Homo sapiens: one gene and its partners. The protein of the gene in region 1 interacts with the protein of each later gene in a biochemical or structural test. Each region holds a gene or a part of one and is shown in the gene's direction. Other genes may lie near its edges.

Region 1 (7,025 bases):
ATAGTTTTGAACCAGGAACTGGTCTAGCCAGATGCTTGGGACTGCTCTTAGACTGGGCCCAGAGAAAGGGGATTAGTAGAAGCCTGGGAAGGGAACTGCTGACATAAACGAAATTCCATTTGTTCATTTGTTCATTCAACAAACCCGAGTGCCTGGTACAATACTGGTTGCTGATGCAATACTAGGATCCAACTATGAGTAAGGTGGATATGGCCGGGCGCGGTGGCTCACACCTACAATCCCAGCACTTTGGGAGGCCGAGGCGGGTGGATCACCTGAGGTCAGGAGTTCGAGACCAGCCCAGCCAACATGCTAAAACCTTGTCTCTACTAAAAATACAAAAATTAGCCGGGCGTGGTGGTGCGTGCCTGTAATCCCAGCTATTTGGGAGGCTGAGGCAGGAGAATCGCTTGAAGCTGGGGTGCAGAGGTTGCAGTGAGCAGAGATCGCACCACTGCACTCCAGCCTGGGGGACAAGAGCTAAACTCTGTCTCAAAAATAAATAAATAAATAAGGCAGATACATACACGCCCTATCCCTGTGCAGTTGTGATTAGGGACTAAGGGAGGAAGTGGGAAAGGGGAGGTCTCTAGGCAAGATCACAGGTATGGAGGGCGAGGATTTATGGACATCTCATCGTTCCCATCCAGGTCCTTGATTCTCAAGTGCAGCAGCTACCGGCAGGCACGGTGGTGGGCCCAAGAGATCACTGAGCTGGCACAGGGCCCAGGCAGAGACTTCCTACAGCTGCACCGGCATGACAGCTACGCCCCACCCCGGCCTGGGACCTTGGCCCGGTGGTGAGACACTGACATCCCTTCTGAGCTTGTCTGTGGCTTTCTTGACCCCCTGTGTAATCTCTGAGTCCTTCATCCTCTCTTTTCTCATCTGAACCCTCCTGACCTCAATGACCCGCCCCGTGACTTCTTTAATCTTCCTGACCTTTGACATCTTTAACCACATTGATCTCTCTGATTTCGCGCCGACCTTTCTGACCCCCAAACTTGGTCATCTCTTCTGACCCTTGACCTCTCTAACCTCCTATAACCTTTTAAACCCCTCTCTACAATACTGACCCTCTCTGTTCTCCATGATCTTCTCAAATCTCTCTGATTTAGTCCTTCATTTAATAAACATTTTCTTTTCTTTTTTTTTTTTTTTTTTTTTGAGAGAGAGTTTTGTTCTGTTGATCTCGGCTCACTGCAACCTCCGCCTCCCAGGTTCAAGCGATTCTTCTGCCTCAGCCTCCCGAGTAGCCGGGATTACAGGCGCCCACCACCACACCTGGCTAATTTTTGTATTTTTAGTAGAGACGGGGGTTTCACCATGTTGGCCAGGCTCTTCTCGAACTCCTGACCTCGGGTGATCCGCCCGCCTCGGCCTCCCGAAGTGCTGGGATTACAGGCGTGAGCCACCGTGCCCAGCCTTAATAAACATTTTTCTAAGCACCTAGCAGTGCTGGCAGTAACACACAGTCCTCTCTGGGTTAGGGAAGTAGGTGATCAAATCGTGAAACAATGTGAACTTGCCGTACTGGTGATAGGTAGAAGGTGACACGCACAGACAGGAAGTACCTGGCCCAGCAGGGATATCAGGACAGGTTTCCAGGAGGTGGTGACCCTCAGGTAGTTTTGCTTTAAATCAGAGACTGACACAATATTAATTTTGTTGGTTTTTGTTGGAGACAGTGTCTTGCTCTGTCACCAGGCGTGTAGTGCAGTAGTGTGATCATGGCTCACGGCAACTTCAACCTCCCAGGCTCAAATCATCCTCCTGCCTCAGCCTCCCAAGTAGCTGAGACTACAGACACATGCCACCACACCCGGCTAATTAAAAACATTTTTTTTTACAAAAAATTTTAAAAATTAGACGGGTGTGGTCTCGAACTCCTGGGCTCAAGGGATCATCCTGCCTCGGCCTCCCCAAAGTGCTGGATTGCAGGCATGAGCGACAGTGCCTGGCCTATATACTTTTTTTTTTTTAAGGCAGAGTTTCGCTCTTGTTGCCCAGGCTAGCGTGCAGTGGCACAATCTCAGCTCACTGCAACCTCAGCCTCCCAGGTTCAAGGGATTCTCCTGCCTCAGCCTCCCAAGTAGCTGGGATCACAGGTGCATGCCACCACACCCAGCTAATTTTTGTTTTGGTTTTTTTTTTTTTTTTTTGAGATGGAGTCTGTCTCTGTCACCAGGCTGGAGTGCAGTGGCAGGATCCCACCTCACTGCAACCTCTGACTCCCCGGTTCAAGTGATTCTTCTGCCTCAGCCTCCTGAGTAGCTAGGATTACAGGCATATGCCACCATGTCCAGCTAATTTTTGTATTTTTAGTAGAGCCAGGGTTTCACCATGTTGGCCAGGATGGTCTCGATCTCCTGACTTCGTGATCTGCCCACCTCGGCCTCCCAAAGTGCTGGGATTACAGGCTTGAGCCACTGCACCTGGCTATAAACTTCTAAAACAGCCAAAACCAATCCACAGTGATGGAAATCAGATCAGCAGTTGCCTGTGGCAGGGTATGGGGAAATGATTGCCTATAGTGGGGCACACGAGGGAACATTCCAGGACGATAAAAATGTCCTATATTTTGATAGGACTGGTGATTGCGTGGGAACATACACTTGCTGATCCTCATGGAACTATACAAGATAAAGAAAATGCAGAACAGTCCAGGCACAGAAGACAGAAATAGCTCAGGGTGTTTGGGAACCACCAGGACATATTGTTGTTACTGAGTGAGGAGGAGCAGTCAGAGGAGAAGCTGGGAGTCAGTGGCACCTGATCTCACAGGGTCCCATGTGCTAATATCACAGGCACACAGGGCAGTCATGGAAGGAAGTTTTGTTTGTTCGTTTGTTTTGTTTTGGTTTGGTTTGGTTTTTGAGATGGAGTCTGGCTCTGTCGCCCAAGCTGGAGTGCAGTGGCGCGATACCAGCTCACTGCAGTCTCTGCCCCCTGGGTTCAAGCGATTCTCCTGCCTCGGCCTCCTGAGTAGCTGGGATTACAGGCGTGCACCACTATGCTCAGCTGATTTTTGTATTTTTAGTAGAGATAGGATTTCACCATGTTGGCCAGGCTGGTCACGAACTCCTGACCTTAAGTGATCCACCCGCTTCGGCTTCCCAAAGGGCTGGGATTACAGGCATGAGCCACCTTGCCCAGCCTTCCTGCATATTTTCACATGTGCATGCACGTGTTACTTTTGTTTCAACATAAATGAGATCATGCAACCTCTTCTGTGACTTATTTTTTCACTTAATACCTGTGTGAGAGATTAGACACTTATATTATTTCCCATTTTTCACTCTTACAAACAATGTGATGAACACAACATTTGCCTAGGCATTGTATTAGATGTATTCCTAGACATGTAATTACCATGTATATTTAATGATATTAAAGGGTATATGCATTTAATATTTTGATACTGCTGACCAGTCGCTTTGGCTCATGCCTGTAATCCCAGCACTTTGGGAGGCCGAGGCGGGTAGATCATTGGGGTCAGGAGTTCAAGACCAACCTGGCCAACATGGCAAAAACCCGTCTCTACTAAAAATACAAAAATTAGCCAGGCGTGGTGGCGGGCGCCTGTAATTTCAGTTACTTGGGAGGCTGAGACAGGAAAATTGCTTGAACCCAAGAGGCGGAGGTTGCAGTGAGCCAAGATCATGCCATTGCACTCCAGCCTGGGTGACAGAGCGGGACACCATCTCCAAAAAGCTATATATATATTTTTTGATACTGCCAAATTGTCTCCTAAAAGTTATATTCCCATAGTCTATGAGAATACCCACTTCCCCAGCATATTGAATATTGATATTGAATGTTACCAGTGATTTGAATTATTACCAATCTAATGGATTTTTTAAATGTAATTTCATTTTAATTTCGTTGTTTACTAGTGAAACTGAACATTTGCCACGATTGGCCATTTTAATTTCTCTGTGAACTGTCAGTTCTTACTCTTTGCTCATTTTTCAGTTGGCTCATGTGACTTTTTCTTGTCGATTTATTGGTGTTCTTTATGTATGATGTATTAATCCTCCTGTTCTTTAGTTGATTAGGTTATTGTGTCTTTTTGTAATTTTTATTTGTATTTAGCGCATATGGGCAAACACTATTTTGATGTGTCTGATACCACTTGTGTTCTCTGATCATTTCTGATCTTTGACCTTGCTGTCACCTCTGACCCACGACTGTCCTCCGGTCTTCACTCTCCAGAGCTTTCTGGCTTCTGACTCCCCTGACCTCCTTGGCTTGGCCTCCCCCCAGGTTTGTGAATGGGGCAGGTTACTTTGCTGCTGTGGCAGATGCCATCCTTCGAGCTCAAGAGGAGATTTTCATCACAGACTGGTGGTGAGTGGGAAAAGGCCCCAACAACATGGGGCAGGATAGAGCCTGGGGCAGATCAGCATTAGGAGGAGAAGGGGGGTGCAGCTGGTGGTCTGGGGCTTCGTTTGCCCCTAATCCACTGCCCTGAATCCCAGGTTGAGTCCTGAGGTTTACCTGAAGCGTCCGGCCCATTCAGATGACTGGAGACTGGACATTATGCTCAAGAGGAAGGCGGTGAGGAGAGTGGTCAGGCCGCAGGGGGAGGGGGTTGCCTGTGGGTGGAGGTTGATTAGCAGGGCTGCAGTGTGGGAGAATTAGGCAGTCTGAGGCTTCAGGGGAGGGAAAAGTGTCCATCCTGGCCCAGCACCTGTCAGACATCACCTCCGCCCTCTCCCTCTGCCCTAAGGAGAACTGACAACTTCCTCTTCATGCTCCCTCCACCTGGCAGAGACTTCCCTCCCAGTATACATAATACTTTATTGTGTTATCTGGGGGTATACATGTCTATCTCTCTCACTGGACTAGTTAATATCACTGTTCCACTACAAGGCACAGTACCTGCCATGGAGGGGGCATGTGTGGTGTTGATGGACAGGAAGAAGGATGCATGGATGATGCAGGGTGGCTGGGCAGGTGGATGGATAGAGGACAGAAAGGGTGATGGATGGAAGGATATGAGTTGGAAAGGTGGAGGGCTAGGAGGGTAGGCAGGTAGATGGATGAATGATAGACGGTACATAAAGGGATGAGTAAATGCTTGGGAAGATGGATGGATGGATGATGAAGGGTGGGTGGATAGATGTGTGGATGGGTGAGTGGGTGAGCACACAGATGACATTTAGTCTAAGTCTGTGGCAAGCAGCAAAGCAGGGCATATGTGGCAGAGCCTCTAGGATCTCCAGACAAGCTGGAGGGACACACGTGGAAAAGGTTTGGGAGTGTGGAAAGGGGCTACTCTGGGAGAGGCACTAGGATCTGATTCCCCAACTCACCACCAGGAGGAGGGTGTCCGTGTGTCTATTCTGCTGTTTAAAGAAGTGGAATTGGCCTTGGGCATCAACAGTGGCTATAGCAAGAGGGCGCTGATGCTGCTGCACCCCAACATAAAGGTGACTCTCGGCCTCAGAGACCCTCCCACATGACAGCCCTTCTCCCCACACTGTCCCAGCCCCCAGCGCTCCCGCTCCCTGATGGTCTCATCTTTCCATCTTTCCTCTCTCCCTCCCAGTACCTCCTGTTTTCCTTCACCTAAACCCACCCTCATGAACCCTCCATGCCTGCTCCAGGTGATGCGTCACCCAGACCAAGTGACGTTGTGGGCCCATCATGAGAAGCTCCTGGTGGTGGACCAAGTGGTAGCATTCCTGGGGGGACTGGACCTTGCCTATGGCCGCTGGGATGACCTGCACTACCGACTGACTGACCTTGGAGACTCCTCTGAATCAGCTGCCTCCCAGGTAATCCCCCTGAGGCCTTCCTGAGCACCCCCAAACTCAGATAAGCTCAATCAACACCATTTCCCAGCTCCAGCCTTACCCCCTCAGTCATTCCAGGCCCTGCCAACCTCAGGGTTCCTCAGACTTTCTGGGACTCCAAGAACCCACTTTGAAAGTGCTGTAACTGGCCGGGAGCCATGGCTTATGCCTGTAATCCCAGCACTTTGGGAGGCCAAGGCGGGTGGATCACCTGAGGTCTGGAGTTCGAGACCAGCCTGACCGACATGGTGAAACCCTGTCTCTACTAAAAATGCAAAAAATTAGCTGGGCATGGTGGCAGTTGCCTGTCATTGAAGCTACTCGGGAGGCTGAGGCAGGAGAATCACTTGAACCCAGGAGGCGGAGGTTGCAGTGAGCCGAGATTGTGCCATTGTACTCCACCCTGGGCAACAGAGCGAGACTCTGTCTCAAAAAAAAAAAAAAAAGTGCTGTCACCCACCCAGTCCTTTCCCCATTTTCACTGACCATCACCCCATTCCTCTAAAAGTGTCAAAGGCAACTGGAGGGGAGGGCTGGGGAATCAGACCCTCTGTTTCATTCTTCCTCTCGGTCTCTCTCACTCTTTCAGTGCTCCTCTCTTTGGCCCTGGCTCTGTACAGCCCCATGACTTCCCCTTGCCCCTGGCTTGGGTGTGTTCCCCCTACAGCCTCCCACCCCGCGCCCAGACTCACCAGCCACCCCAGACCTCTCTCACAACCAATTCTTCTGGCTGGGCAAGGACTACAGCAATCTTATCACCAAGGACTGGGTGCAGCTGGACCGGCCTTTCGAAGGTGAAGCCTCCCACCCGCCAAAGCCCCAGAGAGCTGAGAGCAGGGTCAGAAGCTGGGGCTGGTACTGAGAGTGGGATGAGAGGGGTCAACGGTGGTACAGCCCTCCCTCTGGCAGGCTCTTTCTCCCTGCCCCAAGTGTCCCAAGGAGTCCAGCCCTGACATCTCCCCTGACTCTCCTGGGACCCCCCAGATTTCATTGACAGGGAGACGACCCCTCGGATGCCATGGCGGGACGTTGGGGTGGTCGTCCATGGCCTACCGGCCCGGGACCTTGCCCGGCACTTCATCCAGCGCTGGAACTTCACCAAGGTGTTCATTCCCTCCGATAGGGGCTGGAGGTAGGGAGGGAGCCAGGGCAGATTGGCACCTCCTGCTGACTCTGCCATCCCTCCACGTCAGACCACCAAGGCCAAGTACAAGACTCCCACAT
Region 2 (7,025 bases), on another chromosome or scaffold:
CCCAGGATATCTCCAGGCCTCAGTTTTTTCAGCTGTGTAATGGGCACAATAGTAATGTGAGAATCACCTGAACTGTAAGGCACAAGAGATTAAAAAATGTCACTCTTCAGTCTGGGCACGGTGGCTCACACCTGTAATCCCAGCATTTTGGGAAGCCGAGGCAGGTGGATCACTTGGTCAGGAATTTGAGACCAGCCTGGCCAACATGGTGAAACCCTGTCTGTACCAAAACTACAAAAATTAGCTGGGTGTGGTGGCGCGCACCTGTAATCTCAGCTGCTCAGGAGGCTGAGGCACGAGAATCACTTGAGACCAGGAGGCAGAGGTTGCAGTGAGCCAAGATCGTGCCATTGCACTCCAGCCTGGGCGATAGAGTGAGACCCTGCCACATTAAAAAAAAAAAAAAGTCACTATTCATTTGGCATTCTCAACATGAGTCCAGCACAGGAGCTGGCACGCCACATCATTGGAACCTCAGAACCACCTGGGGAGAAGAGGCTAGTAGTTTCCCCATTAAAAAAACTGAGGCTCAGGGAAATTGCACCAGGACATAAAGTGGTGGTACTTTGTTGCACCCTAGGACTCCTAAACCTGCAAGGCAACCTCCCACAGACAGGAGGGTCAGGAACAGGTTTTTGCTGTGTTATTGGCTTCCTCACCAGGCTGGAAATGTGCTCAGGGCAGGGACACAGTGTTCCAGCCCCTACCATGGAGTGGACAAATAGTGGTGCCCAGGAAAAGTTGGGCCCAACACCACATTTCAAGGAAGGGAAAGCCACATCCAGAGAGACCCGAGGTTTTAGGTCCAGGAGAGACTGAACTGGGCCCGTCAGCCATGCTGGGACTGGTAGACGGGGAGAGCCTGTTTGGCGGTGCCTCCCGGCTCAGCTGTTTCCTCCTGTTCCTACAGGTCTGCAGGGAACTGGCCAGGCAAGGGGGCAGGCCCGTTTCTCCTGGTGGTTGGTGCGTTGTAGCAGCAGCGGGAGCCAGGACTAAGGACAAGCAGGAGCTGGGAGCCCCAGGTAGGACTGAGTTCTCTTAGGCAGATGGATGGTGCACCGGTGTAGCCTTCCTCTCTGGCCTCTTTGTCCTTTGCTGTGGAACTGGATGGGGTTGGGCATGCATGCAGAGTCCTTGATCTGGTTGTGGGCCCTGTGTGCCCAGGGGCCGCAGCTGTTTGCCCTGTCTATGAGGGGCTCTCTGCTCATGAGGAACTTCCTGCCTAACCTGGCTGTGGCCCCAGAATGCTCTCACCTTGGAGCTCAGAGGCCTGGGGCCTACCATTAATTTGGGGCAAAAAGTAGTAACGCTTTTTTGGTCAGTTAGAGAGGGTGGCTCATGGGCCAAAGATTGAGGGTGGGTGTGTCAGCTTTTCCATGGCCCTGTATCTGCCTCAAACTCACCTCATCATCACACAAGGACACTGAAATTCCCCGTGGGCCCCACAGTGGGTTGGACACTGCAGGGGGATGGAATGGGGTCTCCAGCTCCAGGTACAGCTGAGCTGTCTTCCACACCCCAGGCCCCTCCATTTTCCCCAGCTTCTCTGGAGCCCGAGCAGGGCTCAGTCCCTCTCTTCAGCTTCCAGATTCAAGGGGAGCTAGGCAGAGTCTGGAACAATGCTGGGAAGGCTGCAGTCTCTTTGAATCCCCTCAGAAAGCTAGAAATTCCTTGTTTTGGGGCGAGCCTTGCCTCCTTCAGCCCTATTACCATGAAAACATTGCTGTGGGTGACTCCATACTCATTCCAGGCTGGTGACTGGGTGACCGGGCCCCAGTGAACAGGGTACTGGTGGTGGGTATGGGTGCTAATGAAGCTGGAGCCTCGGAGTAACAGTGGGGGGATAGCAAAGACCGTCTTTCCTCCAGGAGTGCTCCCTGAGCAGACCCTCACAGCCAACCCTACTGGCTGTTACGCACCTATAGGTCTGTGAGTAGAGCCATAAAGGCTGGGCTTCCTGGGCCTGACTCTGGGTTGGGGGCAGAAGGGAGGTCAGGGCCTTCACTCTGGGGTAGGAGTTGGGACAGAACAGGAGCAGTCTTCACTGGGCCTTCTGTGTATTGGACCTGTCCCTAAACCTGGTGTGGAGGAAGTAAAGCGCCTTTGGCTGTCTAGGGGCCTCTGCCACCTAAGTTCTGAAGAGCCAGCCCTTTCCGTCACTCAGCCTTGTTTTGTAAGGAGTTTGATTAGTCTTGGAGACAGCCCACTGTAAACCCTCAGACATCACCCTCCAGCTGCACAGACATATGCGTGCTCACACAGGGATATGGCAAGCTAGGCTGCAGTGGGCATGCACACCCACAGACTCATGAGTTCCTGTACGTGCACCACACATGTGGGCATGCAGGTACACAGGTGCTCACATGCAGCCACCCATGGCACACTCACACACACACAGATGCTCTCCCAGTTACCGTTGGCATCCATGCACTCAAATGCCTGCCCACACATACCGCACTGTGCCCATTCTGGGGTCAGGAAGGGGTCCCTGGTCAGAGTTACAGCCCAGTCAGGTCGCCTGCATCTGGCACCTGAGGGGCAAGTTCCAGGTGTGGCTGTGATCTCAGTAAGGGGGGCTGGGCCACCCTGGTAGGTGGGCTCTGCCCATGCATTCAGCAGCCACCCTGCCCACCTGGCCCCAGGCTCCAGGCCGACCAGGGATTGGCATGGGAGATGGGAGGCATGAATGCGGGGGAGAGGCTGTGTCAGCTGTGCCAGCACTGTGTGCCTGCTGCTACAGCAGAGGAAGTAGGCTGTCTGGCCATGGGGCCAAGGTGCTCACAGTGGGTGGGGGTCCTATCAACTCCTGTGTCCCCCACGGTGTCCATGCCTAGAGGGAGTGGAGTTGCTGGGCTCTAGGGACTGAGAGGTTGGCAGGGGCTGTCTGTTCACTTCCCAAAGCCTGGGCCTAGGAGAGAGGCCCATCTGTTCAAGGCGTTTCCGGAGGCTTACTTCCTCTGAGCTGCCCAGGAAGTGGTTTTGGAGTGGGACTGACCAGCCCTCTGTCAGTGGCTCTACGCCTTGCTCCGCCCCTGCCTTGCCTGCCCAGGGGAGCAGCGTCTGGCCACCGGGTTAGGCTGACTGACCAGGCTTTTCACTGCCAGGGCTGCCCAGGCCTTTTTGGGGGGCTCTAGGAGAAGGGCAGGGGGCAGGTCACGAAGTCCCCTGCAGTCCCCACAACCGTGGCTCCTTTCTTGCTCTGAGCCTGTAAGCCGAGGCTCAAGAGCATCAACTCTGGTAGGCATGGCCCCCTTGAGAGAGGTGATGGCTGGGCTGCATCTTAGTGACTAGGCAGCTCCCAGCAGCTCTATGAATGAACCTGGGCAAGTGGCTCTGCCGCTCAGTGCCTCAGTCTCCCCCTGACAGATGAGATAATGATAGCATCCATCTTGATGAGGTTGTGCGGAAATGACAGATAACATATGCAAAGTAGCTGGCATCGTGCTTAGTGCATTGTCAGAGTTGAATGAGTAGAAACTGTAGTTATGTAAAGCATTTAGAGCCCAGTTCATGGGAACTATTCAAAAAATAGCAAGTGGGACTGATGAGGGGGTATTATTATCTGATGGGCTGGGCACTGGCCCAGTGTTACATGGCCAGGTGGCTGTGGAGCCTGGCTGAGGAGCCAGGTCTCTGACTCCCTCATCCCCCTCAATTCTACCTCCAGTGGCAGTGCCCTACTTGTTCAGTAGGTTCCATGCCCTCCGAGGAGAGGAGCTCCTGTTGGAGCAGCTCCACCCACTCAGCAGTCCAGCCCCTGCCTGCTCTTCTCCCCCTCACTCCCTTTCAAAGGGAGAAAATAGATCTCGTGACAAATGGATGCAGGGAGGGGAAAGGCAGTCTGCAGCTGCCTGCTGCCCCCTCAGGGCTCCCCTTGGCCCTCTCCAGCTCTGGCCTCCTGCAGGACATTAGGCTGGGAGAATTGGCTGGGAACGAGGGGGTGGACGTAAGCCCTCCTGCCAGCCTGCTTACCCTTCAGACCCCTGGAGTCAGCCTGTGGGCTGGGGCAGGGAGTGGGCATCTGGGACTGATGGAAGCTAGAAGAGTAGGGGGAGCTAGAAAACCCCCTACACCCATGGCAGCTGGGGGCAGGGCCCAGCCTGTCCCAGGGACACGAAGAAGGTCAGCACAGTTAGGGTTGGGCTAAGCATTGGCCTTCACTGTGTGGGGCCCAGAGGCTGGGGATGAGGAGTGTTGAGGAGTGGTAAGGACAGTGATGCAAACAGCAGGGGCCTGAGGGCTGGAGAGCGAAAGGTGGATGGGCCTGGGCGGGAAGTGTGGTTGAGGGTATCCTGAAGGCTTAGGAGCAGGACTTCTGCAGGCATCAGACAGACCCTGGTTGAATCCTTGCTCAATATTTACTGGCTGTGCACACTTGAGCCAGGGACTGGACCGTTCCCCACTTGCCTCGTCTGTGAAATGGGCAGATCACGGGGTGTGGTGTCCTGTGAGACATGAACGATGGGAAGGAGCCACTGTGTGGGGTGGGGTGGAGCAGGAAGACGGAACAGCAAGCCCAGAGGCTCCTAAGCGGGAAGGAACTGGCTGCTTCGGGAACTGAAAGGGGTCAGCGTGGCTGGGGCACAGGAATGAGGGAAAGGCAGCGCCTGCCCGAGAGGTCAGGGAGGTAACGGTGATGGGGAGGGGGGTGGCGGGGGGCAGGCTGCATGGAGCAGGCTGAGGGGAGGAGTCTGGGCTTGTCAGAGGGGCAATGGGAGGCACTGGGGGCTTGGGCAGGGGGTGACAAAATCTGTCTGAAAAGCCCCGTCTGGTGGCTGGAACAGGGGGACTGTCGGGCCGGGGTAGAGGATGGAGAGCAGTCAGAAGACAGGTGCAGAGCCTGGGGATGGTGGTGGTGGGAGAAGAGGATTTGAGACTTGAGGACAGGCTGCAGCGGCAGACGGGATGGCCTTATTGTGTGGGGAGCAGGGGGAGCTGTCTGGCCTGAGCCACTGCCTGAGCTCGTGCACTCCTAGTGGATGAGGAGCGCTGGGAGGGGAACGGCGGGGGACTGGTGTGGGCAGGCTTGAGCTCTTCTGGAGTCATTCATGTGGTGAAGCCAGGGAGGCAGGTGGGGCCACAAGCCTGAAGTTCAGGAGGGTCTGGGCCCAAAGTAGAGACGGGAGCCTAAAGCCAGGATTGGGGAGGAGAGGGCTCAACAGGCCTTCTAAGGGGTGGGGGAGCATTTGAGAGGCCCACGAACAGGACTGGGATGGCTGTCCCTCAAAGGTCTCTGCCAAGGCACCCAGGAGGGCAGGCTTGTGGTGGCTGAGCCGCTGTTTTCACAACAGCTCCGGAAGCTTTGGATCATGTCTATGGCCGTGTTGGGTAAACAGGCAGAGCAGAGCAGGCAGTCGCCAAGGCCTGAGGCTAGATCAGATGTCTGCGTGGTGTAGGTTGTGGGCTGGGGTTGTTGGGGTGGGAGGAGGATCCCAGGGTCCTCCAGTGTCAGGGCTGGAGAAAGCTTAGAGGTCTCCATTGTTGAGACAGGGAGGCTGGAGCCCCGGGAGGGGCAGTAGCTGGCCAGCCTCTGCCAGTGGACTCATGCTGCCTGCTTCAGCCCAGTTCTGCCCAGAGCCTCAGGCCAGAACAGGGCACCCTGCGGCTGGGGGGCTTAACAGAGCCTCTTTTCCCACTTTCCAAGGAAGTCTGGAAGACACCAGAGCACTTGGGCCAAGATCGCGGAGCACCCAGGCAGCAGATCTGAGCTAGGCCTGTCTAGGTCCAAGCTCGCCGGTTCCTCTGTCCGCTGCCTGCTGTGGGATGGCGCACCATGCGGGATGGTCCTGCCTCTCTCCCAGCTTTCTCAATATCCCCAAAGTGGGGAAGCATCATGTGGATCCTGCCCAGATCCTGGGGATGACTGGCAAAAGGGTTAGGTGGCCATCTTGCCTTCTCCCAAACACAAAACGATTGTTTCCAATGGTAAACCATCTGGAAAATCGTGGGAACTCTGTGGGAGAAAGAAGGGCTAAGGAGTAGGGCTCTTGTACTGGGGGCTGATGGAGGAGCTGTTCCCATCTCCAAACACATACCCTCACCCCATTGGAGGCCAGATGGGCAGTTCTAGGACTAGAGCTGGAAGTTCTCTCCCCACTTCCCCCTGGGTCTGCCCCATTGGCTTTGTGGCTTTGGTTGAATTGCTCAACCTCTCTTTCGGTTTCTGCACAGTGAGCCTGGAGCTCAAGGAACTTGCTCCTGGGGTGCCCGGCTTGCTGCCCTACCAACATAGGTTCAAGCCCTCCCCTCCCCCTGCGCGCCAGGCCTGTGACTGCCACCTGTGACCTTCAACCTCCACCATAGCCTCAGGGCCCTGCAGGCAGGTGGGCGGGCGGGCGGAGGCCTGCCCAGTGATGTGCCTGACCAGCCCACTCCTTCCCTTACACACTTTAGACTTTGCTCTGGATCAAGAGGGACTTTCTTCGTCTCCCTGGGTGGAAAGGCCCAGCCTAGCCTGACACCAGCTGCCCTTCTGCCCCTCCTCCATTCCCCAGCCATTGTGCCTGGGGGCTGTGGTGGAAAAAGCTGCATTTGGACTTCATGGTGCCAGACTCTAGTCAGGGATGTGGGGTCCTTCCAGGACTGTATGTTTGTTTCTGTGTCTGCCTGGAGCATCTCTGTGCCAGTGTGTACATCACAGCTTGTGGCACTCCACGTGCGTGTGGAGCCTATGTGGTCGGGTGTGGTCTGTGTGGGCCCGGGTATCTGTTGAGATGTGAGAGCCGGTGAGTGCATGTGTGTTTCTGTGTGTGTGTGTGTGTGTGTGTACGTGTGCCCCTGTGTCATCACAGCAGTGTGTGTACGTACCTGTGGCTCCAACTGTGTGCGTGTGTGTCTAATGTCGAGTGGGGCTCCCTATGTGCTGTTTGGGTTGGCGAGTGTGCCTGTGTGCACACGTGTGGTTATTCGTGGAGAGGCCCGGCTGCATCCCCCACCCTGGCTCCTCACAGAGGCCCCTTGTCCTCACAGGATCTGGCTCTCTGGCTCCTGCCATGAAGGGGCCTTTGTTCCTCTCTCAGGGGTAC
Region 3 (7,025 bases), on another chromosome or scaffold:
GCAGATTTTCACAGGCACAGCAATTGAAAATGATTCTGTTTAGAAGGCAGACATTCTCCCACACCCTTGAGGCCCAGGGCTCACTGCTGGTGTACAGCATGAAGTGGACAGGAGAGTTGATTCAGTCCATGAACATTTCAGGAAGTTAGAAGTCTATAGTTGTGGATTGCAAAATACATATCTGGCCTGCCTCCCATTTCCTGGCTAAAATACTTGGAATCTCCGAAGTGATGATGTCTTTTTGTACCCTAATGAGTTGACCAGTGATGGGCAGCCCCTACGAAACTTCAGGGTAGGGCTAGTCACAGGGCCAAGGCAGGATTAGAGGGTTTCAGCCCCACCCTCCAATTTTCCCAGAGTGGAGAGGGACTGAAGATTGAGCTGGTCACCAATAGCCAATAATTTAATCAATCACACCTATACCATGAAGTCACACTTTTGCCTTCAGTAGTTAACAGCATCTACAGCCCCGTGTTTCCACATTTGTACAAAGGAATGTTCAGACTGAACCACACTTAAGTACAATTTTGAAACAGCATGAGGCTGGGCGTAGTGCCTCACGCCTGTAATCCCAGCACTTTGGGAGGCTGAGGCGGGTGGATCATGAGGTCAGGAGATTGAGACCATCCTGGCGAACATGGTGATACCCCGACTCTACTAAAAATACAAAAAAATAGGCCAGGTGTGGTGGTGTGCACCTGTAGTCCCAGCTACCCGGGAGGCTGGGGCAGGAGAATGGCGTGAACCCGGGAGGTGGAGCTTGCAGGGAGCAGAGATCGCGCCACTGCACTCCAGCCTGGGCAACAGAGCGAGACTTTGTCTCAAAAAAAAAAAAAAGAAAAAAAAGAAACAGCATGAAATTCCTTGTTGATGGGAAATACCCGAAAGGCCTGCCTGGGTTTTCAGAGAGCTTCCAGAAAGCTGAATTCATGGAGGTTCCTGGAGAATGGCACAGCCAGGAGGGAAAGGTAGCGCCGTGTCTCTTCCCTCATACACCGCCCACTGCATCTCTCCATCTGTATCCTTTGTAACATCCTTTATGAAAAACCAGTAACCTTTAGTGTTTTTCTGAGTTCTGTGAGCCACTCTAGCAAATTAATTGAACCCAAGGGGAAGGAGTTATGGGAACCCTGATTTATAGATGGCTGTCCAGAAGCACAGGTAAAATAACCTGGAGTTTGTGATTGCCTCCAGGTAGACAGTGTCAGAATTGAACTGAATTAAACGACACCTAGCTGGTGTCTGCTGCAGAACGCAGAACTGGTTGCTTGCTTGGCATGTAGGGAGAAACCCCTGCTCATGTGGTGTGAGAAGCGACCTGTGTTATAAGAGTGTGTGAGAAACTGAGTTTGGGTTTTCCTATGTCCTCAAAATAGTATATTTTGAAAGCCTTCTAGGCAGAATGTATTAAAATAGTTTTTACTCCCTGAAGGGATGCCAGCAAGCTAGAAAGATTCATTTCCAAAGGGCTTCCAGTGGTAGCATGGCTAGACATGAGACATCTTTCCATTTGTGTCATACAGCAAGTTATTTTTGCAGTACCATATACGCTATGCGGGAAACTTTTAAGTATTTTATAGGTTTGATTTAGGTACAAATGGCCAAGAAGCTATCATCTATACTCATCCTGGGGATTGGGAACGGAGGCAGTTAGATGTGCCTGTGCTTTGTACCTTCTGTAGATGGGAATGCAGTTGCTCACTCACCAATCAAATTTATTGATTTATATTTAAAATACTATGAATACATCTTCTGGCAATTTTGGTGGTGACATTTTCCTTAAAATATTTGTACTAGCCAGGCACTGTGGCTCACACCTGTGTAGTGCAATCTACTTGGGAGGCTGAGGCAGGAGAGTGGATCACTTGAACCTAGGAGGTCAAGGTTGCAGTGAGCTGTGATCATAACCACTGCACTCCAGCTTGAGTAACAGAGCAGGACCCTTAGCTCTTAAAAAAATTTATACCTACTCATCAGCTGAGGACCTGGGGGCAGGTTTAGAAAACAGATTTTGAACACACATCCTTCCCTCCCTCTTGTGTCTGACATCACTGAGCTGCCACACTTTTGCCTTCAGTAGTTAACAGCATCTACAACCCCATTTTCCCACATTTTTATGGTCAAAAGAATGTTCAGACTGACCCACACATGAGTACAGTTTTTAAAAAGCATGCAATTCCTTGTTGATGCGATAGGTTTTTCGTGACGAACTTAATTTTTAGGGAAAGCACATCTGCAGATGTGTACAGTTGATCTTCATGAGCCCTATGGGCCTGATAAACATTCTTTTGCCATTGTTTTCTCCTCTCCTTGGTGGTGAGTCACTTGTGCAGTGCCCAGCGGAAGAGGGTGGGAGGCTGGGGAGGAAGGCCTGTTCTGGGCAAAGGAAGCCCTGCTTGATGAGCATGAGGCTCCACGGGGGCAGTGGCTGTGACGGTGAGTGCCACACAGAGCTGCCCACACTGGTGGAGGGAAGGCAGGGAGATACCAGGACCATCCGGAAGGGGCTGAGTGTCATTTGACAGGTGCCATGTGAGCAGAGATGTGAAGGAGTGGCCCGGGACAATCAGGGCAGAATCCCTGAGGTGAGTGCGCTGGCTGGCAGAGTTTGGAGACCTGTCAGGAGTAGGGTGCATACTGGGTGGGAAGCCTGCTGGGGTGTGCAGTGGCCCTCGGAGGGGGTCCGCGGTTCCCAGAAAAAGGAATTTGGTAATCTGTGGTGGCATTTTTGGGTGGCAGCACTGGCACCTTTGGCAGTGGCAAGAACACTTCCTGTCTGACCTTCATGTAGGGGAGGTCGTCTGATGTCCCAGACCTGTTATAAATATGAAAAAAAAATTTTTGTGCATAGTTTTAACAGGTGTTCTGAAGTTCCAGGAACAAAATCACCTTATAAATCAAAGATGACTGTGTATTGTTCTCTTCAGAATCACAGCAAGAATTCAGTTTCCAGAAGGAAAAGCTACAGTAGTTGCTTCATGGACATGGCTTGCCCTTGAGGTTGGTGGTGTCAGTGCATGAGCAGCCTGGTAAGGGTGGTTCTCTGGCCGCCACCCTTGGTCCTCTAGCGTGGTTGTGAAGTCACTTTCCTTTACTCCCCATTGCATCATAGTTGGGACAGAGCAGTGGTTCTCTGCCGTCTTGTGCGAGTGCTGGGATGCTGTCTCTACTTCCTTTTGGGTTGCCAGAGGCAGCATTTAGAGCACAGTGTGGGCATTATGTTGTGGACCAAGGCAGCCTATTGCAAGGACCTGATCGGGCGGCAGCCGTGGGGCAGCTCTGAGTAGAACATCGGGTCACCTGGCTGACTGGTGTGCTGAGAACACGCAGGAGGAGGCTGGAGACGGGGTTCTTGCCTGGGGAACAGGAGGGAGGCTACTCGCATCACAGCGGAGAATGCCTGTTGGGTTTGGGAGGGGGGTTTCGGCTGCAAAGCTGGCTGTCAAGGGGCAGGAATTGGGAGGAGGGTCTAAAGTCTTGAAGAGAAATGTGGGGTCGTTGTGTAGGGGCCACCATCACCTGGAGAGCAGGGCAGATGCCAGCGTGTGTGTGAGAACTAGGTCACTTGAAGGGAGGTCCCCAGAGTGTCCCCGGGGTGTGCCTTTCTCTCACCTAGGTCTGGAGTGCCTCCAGAAGCGAGGATTTCCTGCAAGGGCGGTGGCCTCCCAGGGTCTGTGGGGGGGCATCCCCGTCTCTTTACATGTCTGACTGACCAGAGTGGGGTGGGGTGGCAAGGTGGTGCTCGTCCCAAAGCTGGGGGAAACCTGGTGATGGTTCCCACTCCCATTGTTGCACTTCGCTTTTGATTTCTCTGGAAGAGCAAGTCTTTGTGTGGTGTTTCCCCTCAGCCTACATTTTTAAAATGAACGTTTCTTGAAGGCAGAAATCAAGTTTTAGGCATTGGCTCAATCACTGGTGCAGCCATTGCATTAATTTTCTTTAACCTGGTGCGGAGAAGCTACAAGGGCCCCACCCCCTTCTAGTGGTTGGAGGAAGGAGCAACTTGCTCTCCCAGTTTATGACAGCAACACCAGCAGTGTGCTGTTCCAGTTCCCCTTTTTTTTTTCAAGTGGTGTAGAAAGGGGCCTTCAGGGCCCTGGATCCCCCAGCCCCACACAATGGTGGGCCTATGTTCGTCCAGAACAGTGCCTGGCAGTAGCTCAGTGCCCAGCATGTCTGTGGTGAGTGTGTAGTTCAGGAAGTGAACTGGCAAAACTGAGTATCACCCTCTCTTCCTGGGTTCTTGCCACTCCCCTGAAAACCAGGGTAGCATTGTCACATCAGATAGCTCCGCTACGTGTGCGCTGACCATGCTGAGATGGGCACTGTGGACTCAGCCTCTGGTCATTGCTGGAACCAGCGGCCTCCATGTGAGGTACAGGGGAACGCACTGCTAGCAGATGGTTGGGATGTGGACACTCGTCCTGCCCTCTTGGCTTGGTGCTGTGCCATCGCACAGTCATTCGCTGTTTAGCATGCATGGGAGAGAGTGAAGCACAAGGGCCCAGGCCCCTGGGAGTGCCTGCCCTCAAGTTGGAAGAGCCCTTGGGCACAGCATAGGCGCCTGGCAGAATTGGACTGGGCCATGATCCAGGGCATTGGGACCTCACCTAGGAGTTGGGGTTCTGGTCAGAAGCCCTGTGGAGACAGGGTCTCCCCTGTGGGCACCAAACTGACCTCAAACTGCTGGTTCTTTGGCCCTGGGGACGGGGCTGGTTGAAGTACTCTCCCGGCAGCTGTCACCTGCAGGGAGAGGTGGGGGTAGGGGTGCTGTGTTTCTTAGCTGTTCCTCGTTGCAGTGTTAAATCCCTGCAGGTTCCTTATTCTCAGCTTGTGTTGTGAGTTTCAGTGTTGGGGGCTAATGTGGGTTTGCGTTTTTGGTCTTGGTTTTCCCAGTGGCCAGTCCATCAGCCACTGCACTGGGGGCCAGGTAGAGGCCAACTGCACCCTGCCTGCCAGAGTAGAAATACTGGTAGGCCCCAGGCTCTGCTGCCCCTTCCATGTCCTTGTGTAAGCATCCATGGACAAAGCTGACTCACGGGGTGTGCACAGCTGCAGGGAGGCCAGGAAACAGGGGTTTTATTCTAGAGGGCCTTGTGCTCAGTGACAGACCAGAGTCCCATCACTGAGAGAGCAGGGCTGGGGCAGCACAAAGGACTGGAGAGCATTTGCCATGATGCCATGTGCACAGCCAGTGCAAGTCCTTCATTGTAGCTGTGGTCAGAGGTCATGAGACACTGCCTTCAGCAGCCCTGGGAGTCCACCTGGTGTGTGGTTAGAGCTGTGCATCTGCAGATTTCAGAAGGACTTACGTTTGGTGAGGTGCTTTGAAGTAACACTTCACAAATACCAAGAAGCAAGAAATACACAAATAAGCAGGTAATGGTTCTTTGGTGTTTACATTAGCTAGTGGGCAACGGTTCTTTGGTGTTCACATTAGCTATAGTCCCAGAACTCAGTCCATGAGGTGGAATCACAAAAATGGAATTCATTTCTGGCTGTCAGTACACAAACTGATTTAAGATATCACCTTGAATTTTAAGCTGACAAACAGTGATCTAAACTGAATTTCACTGATTGCCCCACCTGAAAGTCAGACCTGATAGATAATGCCCTCCCTTAACTCAAGGCCAGCAGCAGATGTGTTAGAGGGGACCCTTGTGCCTCGCAGCCCTCATCTCCTAATGGCTGTGGGGTCACTGTGTCGAGTTGTAATGCCTAATGAGCTCCTCTAAAAACATCCTGAAACTTGTGTAAAAAAAACAGCAGACTCCCAGTGGAACTCGCCTTCAGATGCAGCCCAGAATAAGAGTTCTAGAATGTGTGTGCCATCCTTTTGTCTCAATCTGCATGATTGCAAGTCTCTTCAACATGATTGGGTGCGTGGAGTGTCTCGGTCATGTGTCTTCCCCTCTGAGCATGCCTTTTGATTCGCACCTGTGTCACAATTGTGCCAGCCTGTGAGATGTGTCTGCCTGTCACCAGTATCGGCACATTTAGTTTTCCCTTTACGTGAGTTTTGGTAAAATAGTGACAAAATGTAATGCAGTGCTCAGTCACAGAAAAATGTCAGGCCTACAGAAATGGAGCATTTGGCTGGCGGGTAGCGTGATGACCATAGGCTTTATTTGGCTGGTGTGGTAAACAAGCAGCAGCTTGTGCAGGTGAGAATAAATGGCCATATTGCATTTCATTTTAAGGACTCCCTTAAAATGAAAATCTTCGTGTGGGACATGAACACAGGCTTTCACGAAATTGATCATCTACACTATATGTATGACTGTTGAAAGGCTGTTGTTCCTCAGAAATTCTTAAAATGTTATGTAATGTACATGAGTCCCTTCAGGAAGTCATCAGCTTTGTTCAGTTTCCTCAGATTAGATAGTAAAACTGAGATTATGAACTATAAAGATGTGTGTAATTTATCTGTCAGTGAACTTGACTTTAATAAAAGCTTTTTGAAAAAGAACTCTGGGTGGGGTGCATTGGCTCACACACATAGTCCCAACTACTGTGGAGGTCAGGGCAGGAGGATCACTGGAGCCCAAGAGTTCAAGATCAGCCTGGGCAGGATAGCGAGACCCTGTCTATAGAAAATATTAAAAATCAGCTAGGCATGGTGGCTTGCCCTTGCATTCCCTGCCACTTGGGAGGCTGAGGTGGGAGGTTCGCTTGAGCCCAGGAGCTCAAGGCTGCAATGGGCTGTGATCGAACCACTGAATTCCAACCTGGGTGACAGAGTGAGGCCCTGTCTCAAAAAGAGAACTCTCGATGTCACTGGCTTTCCATGTAAGCAGAGCACATCATGTGAGCCCCATTCGTGGATGTCAGTCAGCAGAACAGAATCTTGGACCTGGAGCTTGTTTGTCCTGTGCTAGAGGTTGGAGGTGTCTCTGTCTTTCTGTTGGTTCCTGTCAGTTCAGGTCACTTAGAGATTCTGTTACATACACCAGCTCTGACAGGTTGGGGGAGATGATCAACCTTCCGCCTGCGCCTGTTCCCTTCCCTGACTCATGCCAAAGTAT

Evidence for each region.
Region 2: the proteins of PLD2 (region 1) and PRKCD form a complex in vitro, tested with the Homo sapiens proteins (one study listed by BioGRID).
Region 3: the proteins of PLD2 (region 1) and ARF1 form a complex in vitro, tested with the Homo sapiens proteins (2 studies listed by BioGRID).

The regions. Positions count from the first base shown.
Region 1 is NC_000017.11:4,810,152-4,817,176, forward strand, and holds part of PLD2 (phospholipase D2), read left to right. Parts: intron 1-650; coding exon 651-800; intron 801-4,266; coding exon 4,267-4,350; intron 4,351-4,481; coding exon 4,482-4,560; intron 4,561-5,324; coding exon 5,325-5,435; intron 5,436-5,612; coding exon 5,613-5,783; intron 5,784-6,390; coding exon of another isoform or gene 6,391-6,429; exon of another isoform or gene 6,430-6,468; coding exon 6,469-6,595; intron 6,596-6,785; coding exon 6,786-6,904; intron 6,905-6,924; coding exon of another isoform or gene 6,925-6,994; coding exon 6,995-7,025.
Region 2 is NC_000003.12:53,164,194-53,171,218, forward strand, and holds part of PRKCD (protein kinase C delta type), read left to right. Parts: exon of another isoform or gene 1-910; 5' UTR 911-1,022; intron 1,023-4,509; exon of another isoform or gene 4,510-4,589; coding exon of another isoform or gene 4,590-4,627; intron 4,628-7,025.
Region 3 is NC_000001.11:228,085,693-228,092,717, forward strand, and holds part of ARF1 (ADP-ribosylation factor 1), read left to right. Parts: intron 1-7,025. UniProt on the Homo sapiens protein: Small GTPase involved in protein trafficking between different compartments. Modulates vesicle budding and uncoating within the Golgi complex. In its GTP-bound form, triggers the recruitment of coatomer proteins to the Golgi membrane.